3 linked regions of the Homo sapiens genome follow. The protein of the gene in region 1 purifies or fractionates together with the protein of each later gene. This does not show direct contact. Each region holds a gene or a part of one and is shown in the gene's direction. Other genes may lie near its edges. The genes, in order: KCNK4, TMEM87A and GOLGA5.

Evidence for each region.
Region 2: the proteins of KCNK4 (region 1) and TMEM87A purify together in Homo sapiens (affinity purification with mass spectrometry; one large-scale study listed by BioGRID and IntAct). This does not show direct contact.
Region 3: the proteins of KCNK4 (region 1) and GOLGA5 purify together in Homo sapiens (affinity purification with mass spectrometry; one large-scale study listed by BioGRID and IntAct). This does not show direct contact.

What each region holds. Positions count from the first base shown.
Region 1 is NC_000011.10:64,290,129-64,294,286, forward strand, and holds the start of KCNK4 (potassium channel subfamily K member 4), read left to right. Parts: upstream 1-1,173; 5' UTR 1,174-1,438; intron 1,439-1,593; exon of another isoform or gene 1,594-1,657; intron 1,658-1,869; exon of another isoform or gene 1,870-1,990; intron 1,991-2,813; 5' UTR 2,814-2,890; coding exon 2,891-3,079; intron 3,080-4,158. UniProt on the Homo sapiens protein: K(+) channel that conducts voltage-dependent outward rectifying currents upon membrane depolarization. Voltage sensing is coupled to K(+) electrochemical gradient in an 'ion flux gating' mode where outward but not inward ion flow opens the gate.
Region 2 is NC_000015.10:42,228,344-42,232,062, reverse strand, and holds part of TMEM87A (transmembrane protein 87A isoform 1 precursor), read left to right. Parts: intron 1-147; coding exon of another isoform or gene 148-219; intron 220-802; coding exon 803-871; exon of another isoform or gene 872-941; intron 942-3,242; coding exon 3,243-3,351; intron 3,352-3,719. UniProt on the Homo sapiens protein: Potential monoatomic ion channel gated by mechanical force, implicated in normal touch sensitivity through the generation of mechanically activated currents.
Region 3 is NC_000014.9:92,811,305-92,814,804, forward strand, and holds part of GOLGA5 (golgin subfamily A member 5), read left to right. Parts: intron 1-246; coding exon 247-450; intron 451-3,500. UniProt on the Homo sapiens protein: Involved in maintaining Golgi structure. Stimulates the formation of Golgi stacks and ribbons. Involved in intra-Golgi retrograde transport.

The sequences.
Region 1 (4,158 bases):
CCACCTCAGCTTCCCAAAGTGCTGGGATTACAGGCATGAGGTACCATGCCTGGCAGCTTCTGAGTCTTAACCCCAATGGATTAGACTTTCTGGAGGCCCTGTTTCCCTATCACCACCCCAACCTGGTCTTTAGGAGTCAGGAGTTAGTCCAGGGCTTGCTGGGGAGTTGGCGCAGTGACTGAGCAGCCCCCATCTTCCTACCAGGGCGTGGGTTTGCCCAGATGTACAGGTGGTCCCCTAGCTATGCCCTCCCGTTAGCCCTCTTCTCCACTGTCCTTAGTAGCATAGTCACTGCCCTCTGCTTCCATGGCCCTGGCAGGTCTGTCTGATGGCTAGGAGTCCTTTGCTGGAGGGTCTGTCCCCTGCCCACATAGGTGGTTGTCCCAGCTTTTCAGAGTTCCCTTGGCTTATCACTGGGCCTGCTTCAAAACCCTTTACTTGGGACCATCCTGGGCACCAGGCCCTCAGGGCCTCCAGAGAGGGCATCTGAGACTCATAGAGAATCAGCTTGAAGCTGGACAATCACTTTTTGTTGAAATAAAAACTGCTAACGTTTGTGGGGCACTTTATTGTGTGTGCCAGGCTCTGTTTTGAGGATTTCTAAACACTGGCCTCCTTAATGCCCAGAACAGCACCCCGAAGTGATGATTAATCATCCCTTTTCTGTAAGTGGGAACAGGGAGACTCCAGAGTTTGGTAACCTGTTCAGGTTCCCTACCAGTAGCGGGTGGTCAGCCTCAAAGCCCAGGCTGAAAGCCATCCAGCATGAGGGCTGAGGACCCCAGCAGGCACCAGAGGGTCTTTGGAGAGGTCACAGGTTGTCAAGTGGGTGAGAACAGGGCGGGGCAAGTTCAGGACCAGCCAGGGCCTGGGTGTTCAGGCAGTGGGAGAGTGGATGCTGGCACCAGTGCCATGCTGGGATCTGCAGGCAGCTTCAGCCACAGCCTTCCGGGGCTGATTTCTGGGCATGGAAGTGAGAACCAAAAGCTGGGGCAGGGAGCACCCTGGAGGGATAGCCGGGGAGCAGGTAGAGGGCCAAAACCTGGAGTGGGGGCAGGAGGTGCTCCAGCAGCAACTCCCCCAGAGGTGGGTCCCAACCTCCACGTCGGCCAATTCCAGGTGGCCCCACCGGGTTTCCCCCACCCCTTTGTCCCGCGGAGCCCCTCCCTCATGAGTGCTGAGCCCAAGGGCCAGGCTGTCCCCAGGGGCGGAGAGTTGCGGACCCTTCCCGATCCGGTAATGGGCCTGGGAGATGCCAGATTAGCGTGGTGCCTGTCCGGAGAGACGGGCCAGCTGATGCCCAGGTCGGGGCCCTGCCGCTGGCCACACTGGGCTCCGGTCCAAGGCTAGAAGGCTGGCCCCTGCTGCAACCCCTCTCCGGCTCCTCTGCCACCCACCTCCCGGGGCTGGCCGGCTGTGGGGAGCCAGGCGGCCGCAGGTAAACGGCTTGGGGCGGCGCCGGCGGCGAGGGCGCTGCACGGAGGGAAGCGCGGCGCCGGAGGGGTTAACCGCGGGAGGAGGGGGGCTTCTGCCGGCGGGAGGGGGGTCCCAGCCCCGGCGGCCGCCCGCTCCGCCCCTGCCGCCTCCGCGGCCCAGTCGGCACCGGCGAGGCCGTGCTGGAACCCGGGCCTCAGCCGCAGCCGCAGCGGGGCCGACAGTAAGTGCGGTGCGGGCTCCGGTGCGCGGGCAGGACTCAGGGGCAGGGACGCCCCAGGGGCGACTGGCCGGGCGGGGTGCCCACCTCTCGCGCGTGGGCGCCTCCGGGAGTGGTGTGGCCGCCGGTCCCGCCGCCCGCCACGCTCCGAGGCGTCGCTGTGCGGACGCGGGGGAGGCGGTGGGAGCGAGCTGCGGGCGCTGCGCGGTGGCCCTGCTGTCTGGCGTGTGCACGCTAGTGTCCACACACGTGTGCGTGGGCTCTGGGTGCCCTGGCGCGGCCGGCACGCCCATGGGGGCCGGGGATGCCGGGGCGTCTGCGGAGAGTGCAGGTGGGGTGCGTGCGTGCAGCGGGGCGGCGCGGCGCTGCAGCCTCGGGATGGAGCGTGGGCGCGCGGGTCTTTGTGCCCGCGCTTGGCGGCGCGTGCCGGGGCGTGTGTGCGCGTGGGCGCCGCCGCCCGCTGTCTCGGACTGACAGCTGTCTCGGGGGCTGTCGCCCCGGTGTGGCCTTTGCGGACCCCCGCCCCGCTTTTTCCGGGAACTGGGCGTCCCCAGCACCCCTCCTCGCCTGGGTGCGGCGGCCGGGACCCGCCCCTGGGTTCCTCGAAAGCCCGGCGGGGCGCGGGGGCACCCTGGAGGGCCAGCCAGGAAGCAGGGCGAGGCGAGAGGGGACGGAGAAGCCGCGGAGATGCTGTCACAGCCGCAGCGGGCGAGCAGGGACCCACCATTCCCCTGTCCCCGCCTTGCGCTGTCCGGCCTCTCCTCCGGGTTTCCCTTCGGACGCCTCCGAGCCCCCTCAGCCTCCTCCTCGAGGGCCAGCTCCCCGCACCCCCACCAAGCTCCACACATTTCCTCGCTCGCCCCGCTTCCCCCTAGGCAGGCTTAGGCTCTCTTTCGGCCTCCCACTCGCCTTCCTTTCCCTTCTCGGTGCCCTCCTCTCTTTCCTCACCCGGTAGTCCCAGACAGGGGCTGAGGGCCGGGCAGCGGAGGTAAGGGGAAGGCTGGAGATAGGAGGGGGACTGGGTGTGTCCAGCCAGAGGGATGTCTGTGGACAGTGCAGCTGGGGGCTTTATGGATCTTTGGGTGTGTAGGGGATAGAGGAGGAGGGTGTGGGTGTCAGGCCAGCTCAGTGACCCCAGCATCCCTGGTTTTGCCCGCAGTGACGACAGCTCCCCAGGAGCCCCCCGCCCGGCCCCTCCAGGCGGGCAGTGGAGCTGGCCCGGCGCCTGGGCGCGCCATGCGCAGCACCACGCTCCTGGCCCTGCTGGCGCTGGTCTTGCTTTACTTGGTGTCTGGTGCCCTGGTGTTCCGGGCCCTGGAGCAGCCCCACGAGCAGCAGGCCCAGAGGGAGCTGGGGGAGGTCCGAGAGAAGTTCCTGAGGGCCCATCCGTGTGTGAGCGACCAGGAGCTGGGCCTCCTCATCAAGGTGCGTGGGTGGGCCGCAGCCCCTTCAGCTGTCACCCATCACCCCTGGCGCTAGCTGTGTGCCAGTGAGGCCCTGTGCCAGTGCTGCTTTCAGATCAGTATCCCTGAGGACGGGTGCAGTGGGAGGCTGTGGGACAGAGGCTGGGGACCAGGTCTCTGTGTTTTCAATAGGGCAACTGTGGGGTCATTTGTTTTCCTGGAGAGCCTGGCACAGGACTGTGCACCTATAATGTCTCCTTCAGGGTGTGATGGTGGTGGGATGAGGGGGAAATGAATGAATGAATGAATGGCCATAGCGCATGGGCTATGTTACATTTGCACAGGTCTCACTCACCGGTCTAGATTGCCACACAAAATCCAAGACTCTCATTTAAACATGAATTACAGTTAAACTGCAAATGCCTTTTTTTTTGAGACGGAGTCTCCCTGTGTCACCCAGGCTGGAGTGCAGTGGTGTGATCTCAGCTCACAGCAACCTCCGCCTCCCAGACTCAAGTGATTCTCCTGCCTCAGCCTCCCAAGCAGCTGGTATTACAGGGATTCATCACCACACCCGGCTAAATTTTGTGTTTTTAGTAGAGATGGGGTTTCACCATGTTGGCCAGGCTGGTCTCAAACTCCTGACCTCAAGTGATCCACCCGCCTCGGCCTCCCAAAGTGCTGGGATTGCAGACATGAGCCACCACACCTGGCCCACAAATGCCTTTTTAATACAAGTCCATCCCAAGCAATATTTTTGTTTGCTAAATCTGGCAACCCTACCTACACCGGTTCCCATACTTTTCTTGGAGTCATGTGCCTTAGAAAAGCCCAAGAACATGGTGAACACACCCCCTCCCCCTGGAAAAGTGTGCATATGAACATGTGCAGGTGATTTGGGAGGGTTCCAGGATCCATGCCACCAGGAATGCCAGGTCAGGTGCCCCTTCCCCCAGCATGCATGCTTACCATGTGGGGAGAAGGGGGGGTGCGTCAGGGTTCCCTGAGGCACTTCTGGTCAGACTCCAACCATAGACTCAAGAAAGTGTTGGCCGGGCACGGTGGCTTATGCCTGTAATCCTAGCACTTTGGAAGGCTGAG
Region 2 (3,719 bases), on another chromosome or scaffold:
TTGCAATAAATTGCCTCTTAAATCAAACACTTTGTGGATGCACATTTGCTTTTCAAATCACACTGTCCTCTGTATGTAATTCTCTTAGACTTCTAGCAACTTTAACCCTCTGTCAATTTCATTTTCTTTCTTCTGCTGTTGCTATAGTATTTTTCTTATCCCTTGACTCTGATAGTAAACCTGGCCCTCTCAGCAATTGACGCCTGTGTTATTTTATGGATATCCTTTCAGTAATGCCTGTTGATTGGGTAATTAGGGTTATATAAAAAACATACTCTATATAAACTCCTGGAAACATGCAGCATAGTTTTTCAGACAGATAATTGCCTTACATTTTATTTTGGGGTGAGCTCTTATTTGTAAAATATTATAATTTTAGAAATTAATAATTCTTTGTATATGATGCAGTAATTTTTTTTAAATACGAGAAAAGTCTTTTCAGACTTGTAGCCAAAATTGCAATAATAGGAAATGATAGATTAAGGATGGGGCTTATAAACATTAGAACTTTTTTGGAATATGGTCACTTGTTAACATGGATCTTTATATATGAAAAACTCGTACTTAGCAGTATGTTTCGAGATTGTAAATGACAATTTATGTGAAATGCTTATAGCTGTATATTCTATGTGATGGTTTATAAGAAGGGAAGAATGATTAGGTGTCAAATGTTCTTTTTATTTTCTTTCAGTTCAATGCAAAAACTTTCCAGTGATTATGTAAATGCAGAATCATGTGGTGGTTTCTTCTCTGTGCCTCTCTAGACATCTGTTTTTCACCACTTCTTTTTCTTTGTCTGCAGGCCCAGACTGATCTTGCTTCCTTGGCCTTTATCCCCTTGGCTTTCCTAGACACTGCCTTGTGCTGGTGGATATCCTTCTCATTGGCTTGTTTGATGATGGTCCATTTTCTCCCCTTGAGATGGGTTTCCATTGATCTTTCTGCAAAGAGTTTTTATCAGTTTTGTTAATTACTCCTTAGTGTGGGGAACAGTGCATGCTAAGTCTTAACAACCTGAGGGTTCAGGTAAGCAGTTTTTTTTGTTTCTATTTTTTTAATTTTAAAAATCAAATTGGAAATTGGTGACTGTGGACCGAGCTCGAGATAAAATCTTTTGGCTTTTTTCTTTTAAGTGAGCATTTCATCTTGATTTTGCACTTCTTGTTTGTGTACCTAATCATTTAGTGTTAGAGTCACTGGCTGTGCTGGTCCTGCTCTGCCTTTTAGCCTCTAGCAATTCTTAAATGCTTTGAAACTTATGAAAAGATTTTGATCCTTAAAATTTGATTTCAGGAACTATGTAAGGTGCTTTGACTTTTCTGAAACTCTGTATGTTCAGCAGGTTTTAACCCTTATGGAGTGAGTGTTTTCTTGCCTCATTCAAAAGCTGGCTTGGAATTGTTTGAAGATTTCCACCCTTCAGAATAAATAATTGATTCATTTACAGGCAGAGTCAACCAGCAGATAACAAACAAGCTTCTATTTGAGCAATCTTTTTCTCCTGCTCTTTAAAATTAAATTTATATATTAGGGGCTTGGCCTGATGGCTAAAGGATTCAAGTTTTTGGACTTTATCTTATTGAATTTGTTTTGGTTTTTATATATTTGGTCCTATTAGCAGTTTTCATTATTACTGACCTGATAGATTGTGACTGTTGAAAAACTGTGAATGTAAACAAAATTGTTTTGTGAATTTGAGTGGGTTGCTGTATAAGAGTTTTCAGTTAAAGTGTCCTTGGACTAAATAGCCAAAGCTTTTCTAGATTAGTATCTTTCTAAGTGTTTTGTGAACCTCTGCAAGCGTTGAGAGAAGAGGGAGGTGGGAATGGATTGTACAGTAAGATAACCCAATGACTAGGTAACAGCTACGGCTCTGTAAGGGCAGAGCAAGTGCCAAATCCCTTATTTTTGTATCTGCTTCTCATTCTGAAAATTGAGCCGGGTGCAGTGGCTCATGCCTGTAACCCCAGCACTTTGGGAGGCTGAGATGGGCAGATTGCTTTAAGCTCAGGAGTTTGAGACCAGCCTGGGCAACATGGCGAAGCCCTATCTCTACAAAAAATACAAAAATTCATCAGGCATTGTGGCTTGCACCTGTAGTCCCAGCTGCTCGGGAGCCTGAGGCAGGAGAATTGCTTGAGCCCTGGAAGCGGAGGTTGCAGTGAGCCGAGATCGCACCGCTGCACTCCAGCCTGAGTGACAGAGTGAGACCCTGTCTCAAAAAGAAAAGAACATTGAACGTGAGAGCAGATACCATTTTTAGTAGTCACCAATTCCCCTCCTGTTTTTCTCTGGCAACTTCTACTTGAGAATAATGTTCTGAAAATGGAGAGTCATTGCTTTTGGAAGCAAACCATATGAGCTTCTCAACCAATTGTAAGGTCCTCTTAATTCAGGATAGTGCAGGCAACTGATGGCAGGTTCCTTAAGATGGCATGAGGGGACTGAGTGTAGATCTCTGGGAGATTATAGGCACGAGTATAATTATGACCCTCAACTAGATTTGCTGGACAGATGAGAACAGAGCTACCCACCTTAAAGGGAGAGAGAAGATGATGTTAACTCTTTGTCCCTTGCCTGTTACTCATGTTCACTTTATCTTCTGCCATTTCTCTATTTATTTTCTGTCTTTTTTTTTTGTTTCTCTAGAAAGCCTCTTCCTTTCTCTTTTTTATATTTTTTCTCTTGTGATTTTGTACATTCTTACTTTATTCTGGTTCTGTCTTCTCTTTAATGTCTCATTGAAAATGATGACTTCCGGCCAGGTATGGTGGCTCGTGCCTGTAATGCCAGCACTTTGGGAGGCCAAGGCAGGAGGATCAGTTGAGGTCAGGAGTTTAAGACCAGCCTGAGCAACATAGCGAGACCTTATCTCTACAAAAAAATTTAAAAATTAGCCAGGCATGGTGGCACATGCCTGTAGTCCCAGCTGCTTGGGAGGCTGAGGTGGGAGGATCGCTTGAGCTTCAGTGGTCAAGGCTGCAGTGAGCCGTGATTGTGCCACTGCACTCTAGCCTGGGCTAGACCTTGCCTCACAAAAAAAAAAGGAAAAGAAAATAAAATGATGACTTTCTTATTCATCTTGAGGTGTTTGTGAGATTAAGTGAGAATAAGAGAGCTATAAGGCCTCTGAGAGATCTATAAGTTTATTGGCATGACCCCAGATCCTTAAAGAAACCTGAAAACTAATTGGCTAGCTTACTGTTTTTTCCTGAATGTTGAATTCCTTGACCTGCAAACACATATTTATTAGCCTGACTCAAACAATGAAGCTATTAAAACTTCGGAGGAACATTGTAAAACTCTCTTTGTATCGGCATTTCACCAACACGCTTATTTTGGCAGTGGCAGGTAAGTCTGGGACTTTCTTCTTGGAGTTCAAATGTGATCTGTTTAGAATGGACATTCTTAACCTGAAAGGCCATGGGTGGACATAGAAAGTTTTGTATATTTCACTTGGAAAAGGGTTCTTAGCTCTTGTCAAATTCTCAGAAGGATCTGTGGTTTTTAAAAAGTTGAGAACCATTTATTTTATGTACAGTAGCTGGAAATCAACCTCATATTTCAGCTCTTCATTTATCCCTCTTCTATTTGCATTCTTTCTTGAGGCATTCTTTTTCTTGAGGTTAGTTAGCTTAAGTGCCAGAGAGTACTCCTTTTAGAAGACATTACCACATGTTTGTTTAGTTTTATTAAATAGTTGTAGAATTTTAGGGTGC
Region 3 (3,500 bases), on another chromosome or scaffold:
GGGAAAGGCCTTGGATGGCTATATTTTTAACAAACTTCCTGGTTGATTTTAATGCATTGCCATGTTTGGGAGTTACAACTTTACATTTCCTATACTTTAGCTCCTAACAAATTAAGAATTTTTTCCCATCCCTACTATGTTGTTTGGCTGAGCTAATAAATCCCATAAGATATCCGAATGGATGGTTGTAAAATATGTTTCAAAGCTAAATGATATCATTAATTATGATATAAAAATTTGTCACAGAGCGAGTTTGCTGCACGCCTTAATAAAGTGGAAATGGAACGTCAGAATTTAGCAGAAGCAATTACACTGGCCGAAAGAAAATACTCAGATGAGAAGAAGAGGGTTGATGAACTGCAGCAGCAAGTCAAGCTGTATAAGTTGAACTTGGAGTCCTCTAAGCAGGAATTAATTGACTACAAGCAAAAAGCTACTAGAATACTGCAAGTAAGCATGAAATGTACACTTTTGGATGTTAAGATGTGCAAGTTAACTGAAAGGCAATTTGAGACTGTGTAGATACTGTGTGAGGTGCTTTGTTCATGTTCGTCTGATTGGCTAGCTTTAGGTGCCTTACTCTACTTTAGAAATTTTATTAAAGGATGCAGTGTTTCTTGTTCCTACCACTTCTTTTAAAAAAAAAATTCATTCTGCCACTGCCTAGTTCAGGTCTTCAACCTGTCACCTTACTCACTGTGATGATATTAATGCTTGTTGTTGAGCAGCTGTTTATTCTTCCTTGTTGATCTCCTATTGAATTTTTGCAGCAACTGCTTTAGGACTCATCCAGTTCTCAGAATTGTCTCACCCAGCTTTTTTTCCCCTCCTTCAGATCTAAGGTGATCTTACCCTCTACTTTACTAAGAAAGACTACAGTCATCTAATGTCGTTTTTGAATTCTCTTTCCTTTGTCCCTCAGAGGGAAAACATGTCCTTTCATTTTTTTCTAGGATCATTTTCCTGCCTGTGCATTGATTCCATCTCCCATCTCATGTGTAAGCCCTTTCTCCATAGATCTATGCCCTTCCTTCCTGTGTGTGCCTCTCTGCTGCTGCTGCCTTCTGGCTCAGCTTACTCAAGAGCACATGGTTATTTAGTGGAAAAATGAAGACTAGATCTCGGACTCCTGCCTAAGAGAAAAACAGTCTCTTTTAGCTTTGTGACCACTTTGCACTATTTCCCTATCTTCCTTTCTTTCAGTGTCATGCTTACCAGAATTGTGTACGTGCTGTCTTCATTTCTGTAGAACTTGTTAACTCTTATCTCCTTCTTTTCCTACTACATGTCTGAAATTTCTTCTCAAAAATATTTGATGACCTAAATAAATATTCTCTGTCCTTTTCTTAGTCTCCATACCTTGTATTTTGGTAGAACATTTGGCTCTGTTAACCCTCCCACTTCCTTGGAACTCCTGCCTTCTATGCTATTCACATCTCCTTGGCTCTCTTTTTGTCCTCTTCTACTGCTGTTTCTGTCTCTCTTGGGCGCTCTTCCCAATCTCCAAAGAGTCAGAGTCCTCCTAAGCTCTGTCCTGAACCCTCTTTCATTGTCCTTTCTTACCTTGCACTGCTGTATGCTGCCTCTGCTTCTAATAGCCGCCTGCATATGACTTCAAGCATGTTTCCAAGCCTGACCTCCTGACCTCAGTGCCCAGCTGCCTACTGTGCAGGCATGGAGTGTTCAGCTCCCAGACCAACTTCTCCCTCATTCTTCTGTTCTGGTCAACGTTACTGCCATGTGGCAGTAAAGCTTGAAACCTCAGGGTCATTTTTGACTTTACCTTTTTTCTTTAGTCTCAAACTTCTAATGGCTATGAATACCTTTTTTTAATGCTACTTCCATGAAGTATCATATTGATCTCCTCCTCAAACTCTTCTTTCTAAGTACTTTTTTGTATCACCCTAATTTGTTAATTCATTGAAAAGTTACTTATTGAGCACCTAACTACTCACTAGGCACAGAGGATACAAAGCTCAAAAGATGTGTCCTCTTCCTTTAAGAAAACATTCATCTTAGTGGAAAGAAACAGATAATTGACGTAATAAGGTTATTAATGCAGTACAATGGGAGCTTGAGAGAAGAATCCCTTAAAACTTGCCTGAGGCTGTCAAAGATCACTGGACTGAGGAGATGTGGTATAAAGAGAAACTTGAAAGATGAATAGGAAGACTCATGATAGGGAAGAGATTTCCGAGAGAACAACCTGTGCCAGAGCAAGGGGGCCAGAGAGAACATGGCATATTTAAGGGACTGCAGCTAGTTCCATACTGCTGGAACATAACGTCTTCAGAGATGGGAGGCAAAAGACTCATAAAGTTCAACGGCAGGCAGAAGCCATGGTCAGGTTTGAGTGTGAGAACTGTGGCAGCCTGATGAAAAGGTTAGGGGAGATTTGGGCCTCTGTCTTGTTCATCGTTGTATCCCCAGCACAGTGCCTGGTATTCGGTACATTGTTGAAAACATGGAAGTGATAAGGGGTGGCATCAATGGCATGTAGATGGTGAAGAGGTGATCATAAGAAATAATGAGGACCTGATCAAAGTTTTTGGCAGTGAGGATGGCAGGCAGGGGACAGCTAAGAGATATGTGGGAGATAGAATATATGACATGTGGAGATTTAACTGGAAGGATGGGGGAAAAAGGCAAATGGAATCCAGGATGACTCCAGGTTTTTGGTTTAAGTGTATGAATGATGTTTCCTTGTGTTAATAAAAGGGGAAACAGGAAAGAGAACAGGTTAGGGTTAAAGGAGAGTATGACGAATTATGGTAAGTATGCAAAATTGATGCAACATTGAGGTGACAATGTTAGAAAGGTAATTAGAAGTAAGTTGGGAGAGTAGGTAAGTTTAGGCAAGAGCGATGTGTAACCTAACGGGGAGAAAGGCTGAGGTCTAAAAACACAGTCTTAAACATCAGCATTTACAAATTGGGCAAAAGGATAGCCTGCAAAAGAAAAATACTGAGAAGGTGAGTGGTCAGAGATTGGAGAGAACCAGGAGGAGACTGATGCCATCCAATGAAGCCAAGCAGAGGGAGAGTTTCAAGTGGTGCATGATCACCAACCACAGCACGCGGCTCTGATGTGACAAGTCCCGAGCTAAATTCCTGGACTTGGCAACTAGGAGGTCCCTGGGGACCTCTCAACAGAGAGTTCCGGGGTGCGCTGGGAGCTGAAGACATGGAGGCAGGGTACTTGACCATGGACATGAGGACAGTAGCTAGATGGGGGAATGAGGTTGGGAGGTTTCTGGTTTTTTATTAAAAAAAATCTTAAAATGTTATAAATGATCATGTTTATTATAGAAAATTTGAAGAATACAAAAGAAGTTTGAAGAAGGAAATGGAAATAACCCATAATCCTACCACCCAGAAAAGGAAAAATTATTTTTGATGGAGGAGAATGACTTTAAAATATTTTAATTTAACGTGAAAGCTGCTGGTCCTTGTTGTTCCTAGTCTAGAATTAGGACTTTATAAACTGGTCTTTGCATGTCA